Linked DNA regions of Homo sapiens. The protein of the gene in region 2 interacts with the protein of the main gene of each other region in a biochemical or structural test. Each region holds a gene or a part of one and is shown on either strand. Other genes may lie near its edges.

Evidence for each region.
Region 1: of the proteins of PRKCD (region 2) and GAP43, one has a biochemical effect on the other in vitro, tested with the Homo sapiens proteins (one study listed by IntAct).

What each region holds. Positions count from the first base shown.
Region 1 is NC_000003.12:115,675,500-115,682,525, reverse strand, and holds part of GAP43 (neuromodulin), read right to left. Parts: intron 6,514-7,026; coding exon 5,916-6,513; intron 1-5,915. UniProt on the Homo sapiens protein: This protein is associated with nerve growth. It is a major component of the motile 'growth cones' that form the tips of elongating axons. Plays a role in axonal and dendritic filopodia induction.
Region 2 is NC_000003.12:53,185,196-53,192,221, forward strand, and holds part of PRKCD (protein kinase C delta type), read left to right. Parts: intron 1-408; coding exon 409-505; intron 506-731; coding exon 732-832; intron 833-971; coding exon 972-1,145; intron 1,146-1,408; coding exon 1,409-1,500; intron 1,501-2,144; coding exon 2,145-2,207; intron 2,208-3,524; coding exon 3,525-3,663; intron 3,664-3,862; coding exon 3,863-4,051; intron 4,052-4,677; coding exon 4,678-4,806; intron 4,807-6,912; coding exon 6,913-7,026.

The DNA.
Region 1 (7,026 bases), about 62 Mb from region 2:
TGTCTCTTCTATTAAGTTCTTTAATATTTTAGTTATAAAGGTACCAGATCCTTTGGAAATGCACTTGCCAAAGGGGGGTAGACCTAAGCAAGAATATAAAAAAGATACTGATTCTGATAAGCTAAACTTAGGGTAGCAATTGCCTACAATAAATAAAATGACTTTCATCTGATTGAGATATGAAAATTTCCATTTCTAGTTTTCAGATCCTCCTGGCATAACTGATGTATTTGATGGAGTCAGTAATACATCTGTTAAGAACAATCATTTTCAGCTGATCTTTATAGCTCTCTCAGGTCTAATAAAACAGTACTTGGAGCATTTTTGAAATAAGAATCTAAGACTCAGAAACAGTTTAATATCCCTAATAATTCTGGGGTGATAGGGCTGTGAGGGAATTATGATCAGGAATTATAGTAGTTACTAGACACCCATCTGTAAATGCTATCCCTAATAATTCCCAGACAAGAGTCTGGAATATCCAATTATCCAAAGAAGAGAGATGTTCTTATATTATAACACATTGTTGGGGTCCTTAGACATTCCTCTCCTCTTTGTTTCTTCCAGAATAGCACTTGGATAAGTGTCAGGGTTCAGCATGTGACCTCTCAGACTCTCAGGGTTTGGCTTCTGGTTCAACATTGCTAGCTGTCAACAATGATTAAGTCCCATAGTCTCCCTAAAGCTAAGATTTCTCCTTGTAAAAAGGGAAGGGAAAATTACACTACTACATTACTACCACAGAGTGGTTATGATGATTAAATGGAACAATCCCCACATAGCACTCAGCACAGGACCTGGCAGTTAATAAATGCTCATTAAGTGCTACCTATTATTAGACTTTTATATGTTAACTCTTGAAAGAAAACCTTAAAAACCAACTATCGTAGTCCCTTTTCCTAAGGATGAGATGAATGAGGTCCAGAGAAGCAATAACTTGCCTAAAATCTGGTTGGTAGAAATACTGAGACTAGAACCCTGGTCTCTTTATTTCAGTTCAAAGATCTTTTCCCTGCATTATATTACAAGGCAGGTAGGACAGAGAATATCCTAGTAAGGTCCTGGTTGGTATTTCCCAAAAGCATCAGATCACAACAACAGCTAAGATAAAAAAGAAAATGCAGAAACTGAGACAAAACATAACACCTTAATAGAGAGAAAGAACTGTAGGGCTACAGTTAAGGTGAGGATTTAGAGTTCAATCAGTTTGATCCTCATTTTGTCACTGGCTGTATTTGTGGCCAGAATATCCATTTACTTTGTCCCTATTCTTGGAATATAAAAATAGAAAGAAAAATATTATCAAATGACATTGGGCTGTTGTCAAGAAAAGCCAATAAAAATGATTACTCTAGCAATATAAAAGTGCTCCATAAAAGCTTAATAATCAACAGTATTTAAGAGGTATACCACTGAGTATCTGACAGGGTGCCCATGTTTTATAAACAGCATTTATGGACTTCCACAACCAAAATTTTCATTCTTTGTGAGTTGTGTATAAATTTAGGAAGTGGTTGAAACCACATTTCAAATCAAAGCCGCTCACGAGGCACCCTGCCAAATAAGTGTAAATATCCTTGGAAAATCTCACATCTAACACACAGCTTGGTAGAAGTGGACCTATCTTTTGGAAAGCTGAAAAATAGATGGTTACCTTGGGTCTTAGGGAAAATATTGTTCTGGGAAACATAAATAATTTTTTAAATTCAGAAATATGAGCTGGGTATTTCATTTTCTTATACACAATTATCATTCTAGAAATTCTAAATTTTGCATCTATTCTTTTCGTTAATAATTTGAGTATCAGGACATACATTATATGCAACGTTTTTATAGTAAGCAGCAGACTGCATCTTAGCCCCTGAAGCACTGCCTCATTCATATTTTGTCCAAAGTGCATTGGCATAGGGAAGTGCCCTGTACCTAACTGCAGAATTTAATTGAGATTATGAATATGATTGTTTTCAATGTCATTCCCTGAATTTCATACTACCCCCATACCAAGTAAGAATTCATTAAGGTCAAAAGAGTACATCTTGTTTTTGTTTTGGTTTGGTTTACTTTTTCTGAGACAGGGTCTCACTCTGTCACCCAGGCTGGAGTACAATGGCACACAATAATGGCTCACTGCAGCCTTGACCTCCCGGGCTCAGGTGATCTTCCTGCCTCAACCTCCAGAGTGGCTGGGACCTCAGGCACACACCACCACACTCTGCTAATTATTTATTATTTGTAGAGATGGGGTCTCCTTCTGTTGCCCAGGCTGGTCTCAAACTCCTGGACTCAAGTCCTCCTGCCTCGGTCTCCCAAAGTGCTGGGATTACAGGCATGAGCCACCGCACCTGGACAAAAAATCATATCTTATTCATCTTTGTGACTCCAATACCTAGCACAGAAGAAAGTTAATATAAAGGGAAGGGAAAAAGAAAGGAAGAATAGAAAAGAAGGAGACAGAATGGGAAGGAAGGAGGGAGGAAGGAAGGATAAAAAAGAGGAGGAAGAGAAGCAGGGAGACACTAAGTTAATTTTTCTATTCAGGGAATGGCAATAGGAAACTCCTCCCTCTTTTCTTGATCATTACTGATGGCATCAATTTGCAAGATGTACTGAGACCATGAAAATAAAATGCAGCCAAGATCAACATACAGAACATTTAAAGTCACTCAGAGCTACACTTCCAACTAGCATCAGTCAAAGACCCTGTGGCAGCCACCCAATCAATATCACTGATTGATAGCCCTCTGGATAGGTTACCTTGGTTGTACCACATCACTGAATATGACCACAGCAGAGTCCTCTACTGGGGAAAATCAATAGGCTACCATGGAGAAGAGGAGACGTAAGAGAGAATTCCTTCATTGAGAGCCAATGAGCACAGTGACACTGCTCAGCAGGAGACCCCAAGGATATAATCACTAAAGGGGGCTTCAAAGTTCTCTACTCATGACTGAATGGGGCAGTGTCCCACAGATGTTTTGAACACTCCTCTTCCTCTAAAGGAATCATTGTCAGAGGTGCGCTGAAATGTTTTGGTCCCAGGCACGTAAAAAGCTGGGCAGGCAGCGTGGCAAACTAGGGAGAGGTGGACATACTTGGAGAATTTAAAACAATGACAATAACCAACCAACTTCAAAGATCAAAATACAAATGACATCCCCCCATAACAAACAGGTTGGTAGTAAATAGTAAAAGAAGTAAAATAAATAACATTTATAGTTCCCCCAACATTTCCATAGGTATTAAAGTAATAATCATATCTAAAATTTTTAAGCCTGATATTCACAGAAATTATTTTCTTAGATTTTCTCTTTGTACCTATTTTTCCCCTTAACCCTGTTGCACCCTCTTAGATTGTCTGTCCACGCCCCTCCAGGCAGCTGTAGAATCCTAAAGCAACCCATGGTAGCCACCCATTTCCGAACAGTACAGCCCAGTGGAAGATGCTGCTACTTTAACCCAGGTTAAAATGAAATACAGTGGAAGGCAGAGGAAATGCAGTACAGGGCACCTGGGAATTTGGACCTGATATGATGTGATAGATCTCCTTGTCACCTCTACCTTCTGTGATCCCATGAGATTCATCACAGCGGAGTAATTTGTGCTTGTCACATAAGAGCAGGCAAGGCTACTAGATACCTCAACCCAGAAAGAAACGACAGGCAGCATTTCTGAATCTAACCAAGAGGACAGTACCTACCCAACTCTAAGAAACACTGTAAATTGCCCTTTGTGATTACCTTCAAGTTGAACTTCACCTATTGTTTCAATCACCTTTGAATGCCCATGATAAAGTCTGATTAATTAAGATATTTTTCTGTCAGAATCTGTAACATTTAAGGCAGAGAAGAGTGCTGTTTGCTTTCACTGACCAGACACATTTTTAATCAAATAAATGAATAGAATAAGCAAATATGCAAGAGAAATATATAAATGAGTGAACAAATTATTATCTATAATTTAAATTTCATCAATTTATATTCAATATTTGACATTTGTTGACAACTTACTACATAAAATATTTCATTAATTCATTTGCAGTTAGTTATCATAACCTGAAACATAATAAAACTTAATTTCTTTTAAAATATATTATATATTAGACTTCCTACTGATTCAAAAAATCCTTCTATCAACCCAAATCATAAGCATATACCTAAAATCACATCATTTCTCTGTTTCCCACAACTTTAGAAATCCCAGTTAAAAAATATGGTCTGTGCCATGTCAGATATGTTCTGTATTTAAAAGCATGATTAATTTCTAAGATGTATGAAAATGACACATTAAGTAACTTGTGGATATGCAAAGTGATTTCCAGACATCATACCTGAGGCTCAAACCTTAAATCTAAAGAAAAGTAGTTAAGTTTTGCTTTGCTGAGTAAATTAAAACCCACACCCCACTTTTTATCACATGCCTTACCTTTTCCAGGGAAAAATTCCCATCTTCTAAACCTCAATGTCTGGCCCCTGGGACAGTTGTGTGTTAGAATAAAGATTCAAAATGAAAAGAAGCATACGATTTATCCAGAGCTGGAATATGCCAATAACAATGTTAATTAATATAATCTGGCATCATATTCATAGAATTTTAGGGATACGATGAAAGAAGTAGACCTAAAATATCTAGAATAGTCACCTACCATATTGTAGTATCTGATTTTGGGGAAATGTATATCAAGGTAAAAGTCCAGTCATTACTTTCTCAATCTGATGGTCAGATGCCAAAACATTCCTCAGACCACTCTCATGGAGTAGGTTTTCTCCCAAGGAGCACACGGTGGTTCAGTCCGTATTTGGACCCTTGGATGACAAACATCATTGGTTAAACCGAGGCGCTTCTAAAGGAGTAAACCCAATCTTTTAAATGGACACAGAAGAAACTTTATCTTTGAGGATCTTTGGGGCTGGAAAGTATTTATCGGTCATATTAGACTAGAGAAAGATCATGGAAACTGTTGGCCTCCTTTACCACTGTGGATGTGTTGGGGTGAGGGAAGGATCTAGTCTCCAGGGACGAAACTCTGTTGAATTTATCTTGCTCTGGGAATATTCTATTCCAATTCTGCACAATTGAGCAGTAATAGTGAAAACCCTCCAACTTTCAAGTTACAGCTCCAAAATGAAGAGAATCCAGTACCTTTTTGTAATCATAGGAACCCTCAATTATTTATGCATATTGTAGAAAGTCGTGTCTTCAATAATAAAATGATTATTTATGTTTGACTTCACAACATATTCTGTATTTGGGGTTTTTCTTTTGTTTTTGGCAACATCGACAGACTTATTTTCCTAATTATGTTTGACCCCAATTAATGTTACAATTAACATTCTCTGAGCATACCCACATATACACACACTACTCACCAACCGATGGTGGAGAGAATGCCCAGAAACATAATGTGAGATAGGGAAGGGTGGTCTGAGATTATACTTTTGCTGCCAACAATTCACACACTATATAATCTGGATCAAGAAGAGGATGGCTGTATTTATACCAGGCATTTTCTAGAGCCAAATAATCACATTAGCTAATTCCCATCCATAAAATATATGTAGCCTCAGTAATTACTTATTAAACTAAGTCTATCAGCACACAGAATACTTTTTTAAAGCAGATTTATCTAGTTTGACTGCATATATCAATCCAATTAAGGTAATTGCCAGATCTTTCTAGTACTGGCTGCTACATAGACCTGCCTGAGTCCTCTCTGGTAGTCCTCTCTGGAGATATTTGGGAATGTAACCTTAGCTCTTAGTCCTGCCACTTTGGGAAATTAAGCACAGCTTCCCTTGATTTCTGGAAAACATCTTCTAGACTTTTTCCTCTCCCTCAATGACCCAGGTGGCCTGGTCTTCCGAATAGCAACTCCCTTCCCCATCCACCCATTGCATCTGACCCTCGCGGTTGCTCACCTATGTTCTCTTCAGCTTGGCTGCTCTCCCCAGTCTCCGTTGGAGGCTGGGCTGTTGCCTTGGCAGCAGCATCCTCTGCGGCAGGGGTGGTGGCAGCAGCAGCAGTGACAGCAGCAGGCACATCGGCTTGTTTAGGCTCCTCCTTGGCTGGGGCATCTTCAGCCTTGGAGGACGGCGAGTTATCAGTGGAAGCTTTAGTGGCACTTTCTGTCTCAGCTGAGCCGGCCTTCTCCTCTGAGGATGCAGGAGCCTGGGGGGCTGCCTGCTCTGTGGCAGCATCACCCTCCCCCTTCTTCTCCTCGGAAGGAGTTTCTCCTGCTTTGCCGGGCTCATCAGGCTTGGAGCCAGTGGCTGGGGCTGCTTCGGCAGTAGTGGTGCCTTCTCCCTTCTTCTCCACCCCATCGGCAACAGGGGCTTCATCCTTCTTATTAGCTTCAGCCTCAGCAGCTTGGACATCATCCTTCTTCTCTCCTTTGAGCTTTTTCCTTGTTATGTGTCCACGGAAGCTAGCCTGAATTTTGGTTGCGGCCTTATGAGCTTTATCTTCTGGTTTGATACCATCTTGTTCAATCTTTTGGTCGTCATCATTTTTTTCAACCTTTGTCGAGAAAAGAAGGGAAAAGAGAGGGCTTCAATGACATTCTTCTCCTTTAAATCTCAGCATTCAACAAGTATTTATTAAGTGATTTATTTTGTGCCAGGCACTGTTTTTGGAGTTAAGAATTCAACAGTACCCTGGAAGTTCAAATCAAACCTCATCTTTCTCCCACAGTATTGTATGGGAAAAGTAATGTCTTTCGGACCTTCCAGAATCACTGGCCATTTTTTTTTTTTTTTTTTTTTTTTTTTTTTGAGATAGAGTCTCAGTCTGTCACCCAGGCTGGAGTACAATGGCGTGGTCTCAGCTCACGGCAACCTCCGCCTCCCAGGTTCAAGCAATTCTCCTGCCTTGACCTCCCAAATAGCTGGGATTACAGGCATGTGCCACTACACTCGACTAAGTTTTGTATTTTGTAGAGACGGGGTTTCATCATGTTGTTCAGGCTGGTCTCAAACTCCTGACCTCAGTGATCCGCCCACCTCCACCTCCCAAAGTGCTGGAATTACAGGC
Region 2 (7,026 bases):
GGACCACAGGAGTGGGTGTTGGAACACTTTGAACTAAGACTTTGGGTGTGGACGTTTGTATGTGGGGGGGGCTTGAGGGATGCCACAAAACCTAAAGGTAAAATTTTAGAATCAATCAGAAATGAAGCTAAATAGTCAAATAAAATCTATCGAGTGAGTGGTTGGGAAGGTAGGGTTCCGTTTACAAAACTTCTGTTTGTAATCAGAGCCTTTCAGACCACCAAGGCTTCTCTGGGCTCCTGGAAGAGTGCGTGTGTGTACACGCAGCCCGAGTAGGGGGCCTGGGCTGTGCCCCTGTTGTCTCCTCTTGGTGTTAAGGGTGGAGTTATACCTGGGAGTCTTCCTTCTGGGCTGGGAGTTCTGATAATGGTCTGACCATCTGGCCCCCCACCTCTGCTCCCTCCCCAGAGAGCCTCCCGGAGATCAGACTCAGCCTCCTCAGAGCCTGTTGGGATATATCAGGGTTTCGAGAAGAAGACCGGAGTTGCTGGGGAGGACATGCAAGGTGAAGCTGGGTCCATTGCCCCATTACGGTTTTTATTCCCCCTGAGGCCAAAGAAAGGGGACTGTCCTCCCTTCCATTGTCAAGTGAGACATGGAAGGAACCACCGGTCCTGGGGAGCGAGCCCCTTCCTCTCTGAGGCCCCTTCCCCCAGCCTACCCCAGGCCCCGGGGGAGGGGAGTTGTGTAGACTGAGACCCCGATCTGAGGAGGTGCCATCTCTCGGGCAGACAACAGTGGGACCTACGGCAAGATCTGGGAGGGCAGCAGCAAGTGCAACATCAACAACTTCATCTTCCACAAGGTCCTGGGCAAAGGCAGCTTCGGGAAGGTGAGGGCTGTGAGCCGGGCACCTGCTTCCCACCCCACCCTGGCTTCTTCCCGCTTAGGTGGCTGAGGTGGGAGTCTGTGAATCGGGCTGTGGCCCCTGCCCCGTCCTCACCTGCTCAGCACCCGTGTCTCCCCATCAGGTGCTGCTTGGAGAGCTGAAGGGCAGAGGAGAGTACTTTGCCATCAAGGCCCTCAAGAAGGATGTGGTCCTGATCGACGACGACGTGGAGTGCACCATGGTTGAGAAGCGGGTGCTGACACTTGCCGCAGAGAATCCCTTTCTCACCCACCTCATCTGCACCTTCCAGACCAAGGTGCCCGGGCCTCCTGCCGTCACCACCCCATGCCACAGCCATGTCCCACAGCTCCTCAGCCCCCCTCAGTCAGGGCTGTGTCTCCCCTTCAGGCCACTTAAGGCAGGGCCATGCTTTCCCCCCTCATGCCTCCCAGGGCAGAGTCGTCCACCTCAGCCAGGGCCTGTCCCTGCTGTTTCCTGTTGGGGCTTGGCCCCAGTGGCCCTCAGTGAGGGAGCCTCCTGCCTATTCCTCACCCCTGCTCACCACCCTTCCCACCCCAGGACCACCTGTTCTTTGTGATGGAGTTCCTCAACGGGGGGGACCTGATGTACCACATCCAGGACAAAGGCCGCTTTGAACTCTACCGTGCCACGTACGTAAGGGCCATGGTGGGGAAGGGCCCAGTGTGGAGGAAGGGCTACTGGCTCAGAGCCCACTTCCAGTCTGCCCTCCATGCCTTCTTCCCTCTCCCTAGAAAAGCCAGCCTGGGCTAGAGCGGCAACTGGGGAGATGTGGGGGTAGCCTGGGTCGGCACCACACAGGAAGCCATGGGTGGCAAGTGAACTGCGGCTGGGTGCGCAGCGCAAATACTCTGGGTCCTGGCCGCTCCGTGGGCCACAGCCAGGGCAGCCTTGCAAATGGTGGTCCTGCATGACACAGGACACAGGACCCTGGTGCGTGGCCCCCAGACCTGCTTCTCCCCATTCACATGCCCCTTACCCCAAACTAACCGTGTATGTGTGTGTGTGTGTGTGCATGCATGCAAACACATATGTACATGCATGTAAATGCATACACTCTTAGAGAATTGGCTCACTGAGAGCTTTCCCTTCAGAACTTTCTGCCTGGGCTGCCAGCCCCCACTTGCCTGATACAAGATGTACTTGATCATGCTCAGGTGGTCCATGGAGTTATTTGCAGCATTTCTTGCTCCTGGAAGTGGGGTTGAGGGCCCGAGGAGAAGCAGAGGCTGCTCGGCAGAGATCCCGGAACACTTTATCCCTCTCTCTTGCCCAGGTTTTATGCCGCTGAGATAATGTGTGGACTGCAGTTTCTACACAGCAAGGGCATCATTTACAGGTGCGGGGGTGAGGGCAGCGGGGGCTCTTGGGAGGGGAGGCTCCAGCCCCATCATATCTTCTGAAATGCTCCAAGCAGGATCCCCCCAACTCCAGTTCCTTCTCTGCTGGAAATCAATCTTTAGCTGGGTATTTGCCTATGCCTCCCACCCTGGTGTTAGCATTCCTGTGGCCACCATTTGAGGCTGGCTCAGCTTCAGGAACTAGGAACTCACTGCTCATATTTGACACCATCGCCCCACCCATCCTTGGAGCCGTCAGTCTCGCTCTGAAGCCCCATCGAGTCATCTAAGCTTCTGCCAGAAGGGACTCCTTCCATAAAGTCTCATCTAATAAGTTATGATTCCATCCTATGGTGGGAACTGTACACCCACCAAAAAGGCTGAGGTCAGGCTCTGTATACTGATGTGGGATAATGCCAAGATATGTTGTTAAGTGGAAAAACAACCTGTGGGAAAGTGTATATCGAATATTAGCATTCAGCCTTTAAAACGTGGGAGGGAGACTGAGCGCGATGGCTCACGCCTGTAATCCCAGCACTTTGGGAGGCCAAGGTGGGCAGATCACCCGAGGTCAGGAGTTCGAGACCAGCCTGACCAACATGGTGAAACCCTGTCTCTACTAAAAAATACAAAAGTTAGCTGGGCATGGTGGTGGATGCCTGTAATCTCAGCTACTCAGGAGGCTGAGGCAGGAGAATTGCTTGAACCCGGGAGGCGGAGGTTGCAGTGAGCTGAGATCATGCCACTGCACTCCAGCCTGTGTGACAGAATGAGACTGTGTCTCAAAAAAAAAAAAAAAAAAAAAAAAAAAGGTGGGAGCGAGCTGCATGCTGCCATATGCTTGTCCACGCCTAGAATTGCTCTAAGGAGAGCCTCATGATTGAGCTCAGTGGAAGGTAGACTTTGTACTGTTTGCCATTTCTAGTTCCCATATGCATTAAGTATATACTCAAATGACTAATTACTAAATATAGACATGGTCTCTGCCTGTGGGAAGTAGACAAACCTGAACCTGGGGGTCACTTCTGCTGCTGACTGCTAGGGGACCCTGGGCGAGTGACATCACCTGTTTGAGCCCCATTTGGGCTTCAGGAAGTAGGGCAGTGTATGCCCAGCGTTTAGCACACAGTAGGGGACTTGCAAGAAGCACCTGTTTTTAGGATCTCTTTCTCCTTCTGCTTCCTTTTCTGTTTCTCATTCCCTTGTACCCTTGGGGACAGTCCTGGACTAATACGGCTGAAAATTAGGACATGGGGGGCAGGGTTGGAAGGAGAAGAAATGTCCCCTGCTGACTCTTACCTGTCCCCTGTCCTTAGGGACCTCAAACTGGACAATGTGCTGCTGGACCGGGATGGCCACATCAAGATTGCCGACTTTGGGATGTGCAAAGAGAACATATTCGGGGAGAGCCGGGCCAGCACCTTCTGCGGCACCCCTGACTATATCGCCCCTGAGGTGAGCCGATACCCTTCCAGCCCCCCGCTCAGTCAGGCACCTTGCCTCCCCACGGTGGGCCAGGGAAGGATTCCCAAGGGCAGTGATGTCCAAGCCAAAGCCCATAGGCTGAGGCGGCCTGGCTAGGCTTCGTGCCCAGGGGCCCCTCTCAGCCTCAGCACCTCAGCTCCTGCTGACCTGCTGCTCTCCCCACCGCCAGATCCTACAGGGCCTGAAGTACACATTCTCTGTGGACTGGTGGTCTTTCGGGGTCCTTCTGTACGAGATGCTCATTGGCCAGTCCCCCTTCCATGGTGATGATGAGGATGAACTCTTCGAGTCCATCCGTGTGGACACGCCACATTATCCCCGCTGGATCACCAAGGAGTCCAAGGACATCCTGGAGAAGGTGGAGGCCCTGGGCTGGGCTGGGCTGGTCTGGGCTGGGCTGGGGCAGGGGCTGGCAGACACTGGGCTTTGGGTGAGGAGCTTCCTGTCTCTGGAATGGCAGCCTCAGTGGTGCTGCAGTCCTAACATACGGGGTATTGCTCTCTCACCATGTTCCCAGGAACTCCTGTCTGAGTCCTGTGCATAGAATCAGCCTGACATGGTGACTAAGGGCCCAGGGTCAGGAGACAGACCCGAGGCCAAATGCTGGCTCTGCCTGGGACTAGCTGGTCACTTAACCTCTCAGAGTTTGTCTCCTTATCTGTAAAATGGGGCTATGAGCAGACTTGACTCACAGAGTTGTTGGGAAGAAAATAGAAACATATGATGCTCAGCTGTGGGCCAGGCAGATAGTAAATAATAAAAAGTTCCACCAGCAGAGTCGCAGATGTCCAGCCCAGAGCCTGTCATCTCCGGGGGAGCTGGGAGCACTGCAGGCCAGAGTGGCCTCCCTCAGCCCCACCGTTCCCCAGGCTGACTGGGGCTGGGGCAAGCCTGGCTTTGCATCCCTGGGCCTGCTGGGGATTTGCTGAAGCTCCAATTTCCCATGGCCCTTGGGTGCTAACCAGGGTCCCTGCTGGGTTGCAGCTCTTTGAAAGGGAACCAACCAAGAGGCTGGGAGTGACCGGAAACATCAAAATCCACCCCTTCTTCAAGACCATAAACTGGACTCTGCTGGAAAAGCGGAGGTTGGAGCCACCTTTCAGGCCCAAAGTGGTATGTGATCCTGCCCTGTGCTGCCTTCAGGCTGAGCTACTCCTCTCCTGCCCTCCCTCTCTCCTGCATCATTCACACGCTTTCCACCTCTCCCTTCTTCCAGCAATCTCCATAGCATGTTCAGTCACAGCCGCTGCCCTTGTATTCTCATCCTCTCCCTCCTGACTCAGTCATTCAGCACACACTGGGGACTGTGGATCCCACTGTATGCAGAGGACCCTGTTTTGGGAAATAGAGTTAAGACCTCACTTTATCGCTCCATTCAATCCATTTTCCAATACATATGGGGAATCCTGAGTCCCTGTTGAATGCAGAGCACAGTGCTGGGCTGCACAGCAAAGTGGGAGATGCAGTCCCAGAACCGGAGGAGCTCTCAGCTAGTTGGAGAGATAAGAAACTTGCACACCTATGACAATTTGTGATACGAGATGACAGTATAAGAGATGCCCCAGGACACATGATCCGTTGCTATTGAGTGGGTCTGTCAGCAGGAACCCAGGTGGCAGAGAAGAGGGTGGGTCTGAGAGGCCCCGTTGGAAGAAGTGAGACAAGGGACAGCTGGGAGGCATTCCAGGTGGAAGAGGGGCTGGTTCACTCACAGGCCCAGAATCTACAGGGCTACCAAGGAACCAGCCTGAGAGCAGAGGCAGGTGGGGCCACTAAGAAATTTGGGGCTGTGTGGCCCCTCTGTGACCACAGTTCTTCCTTCCCACTCCCCTTCTGTCCTTTGATTCCCCTCCTCCACCAGGGCACACAGTTCCCACTGGGCAGCCTGTGTAATGCGCCCCACATTTGTGCTTTGAGGCTACAGAGCACTTCCCCTACACCAGGGACCTCAAACTCAGACGTGTCCTGGCTGAGCATGTAACTGACAGGCTAGGCCAGCTGCAAGAAAATCACACAGCCTGCTTTCAGTCTCACTTTTGATAGATTTCCTTCTCCGCACTAAGAAACACAAAGCAGGTGTGATGTACCCCTTGTCAGTGGGGCAGGGGCTGTCCAGGGGGCTCTTAGCACCAAGAGTGGGCAGGAAGTGGGCCCAGGGCTGCTTTAATCTGCCAGTTTTCAAAAGAAGCTGGAAATCTGGATTTTTAGGTTGCATTGCTCAATTTTAAAATATAAGTTCAGGCCGGGCACAGTGGCCCACACCAGCACTTTGGGAGGCTGAGGCAGGCAGATCACCTGAGGTCAGGAGTTCGAGACCAGCCTGGCCAACATGGTGAAACCCCGTCTCTACTACAAAAAATACAAAAAAAATTAGCCGGGTACGGTGGTGCACACCTGTAATCCCAGCTACTCAGGAGGCTGAGGCAGGAGAATCGCTTGAACCCAGGAGGTGGAGGTTGCAGTGAGCCGAGATCGTGCCACTGCACTCCAGCCTGGGCAAGAGAGTGAGACTCCATCTCTAAATGAATAAATAAATAAAAATAAATAAATAAAATATAGGTTCAAATTCCATTAAAACCCAGTACAAGCCGAAATGATTGTACTTGCCAGTTCAGTTTGGCTGAAGGGCCACCAGCTTGCGGTCTTTCTATATTACCATCCCATCATATCCTCAGGAGCAGAGAATCAGCAAATTTCTCCTGTAAACAGCCTGATAGTATATATTTTAGGCTTTTCAGGCTTGATGGTCTCAAAGCAGGCATAGACAGTATGTCAACAAATGGGCATGGTTGTGTATTACAAAAGCTTTATTTATGGAAAGTGAAATTTGAATTTCACCTAATTTTCATGTCATGAAATATTTTTCTTTTGATTTTTTTTCCAACCATTTAAAAATGTGAAAGCCATTCTTAGCTTGTGGTCCCCACAAAAACAGGTGGTAAGTGAGCCTCCCTGGGCTGTGATTCGGTGGTCTCTGAGCAAGAGGCTACCACCTCTCCTAACCCAGGCCCAGAGCTCCCTGGTCACTTTCCTCATCCTCTTGGGGAAATGGCAGCCTCCTTCCCATGGGGCTCCTTTCAGGCTGCTAGGGGAGGCTCTGTCTTCTGTTCTGGGTGAGGACAGCTCTGGCCTGGCCCAGCCCTGCAGGGACTCCAGCCTGGGGTGTCTGGAGGGCCATTCCCTAGGTCCTGTTCGCTCACCCCTGCCCTCTGCTTGTAGAAGTCACCCAGAGACTACAGTAACTTTGACCAGGAGTTCCTGAACGAGAAGGCGCGCCTCTCCTACAGCGACAAGAACCTCATCGACTCCATGGACCAGTCTGCATTCGCTGGC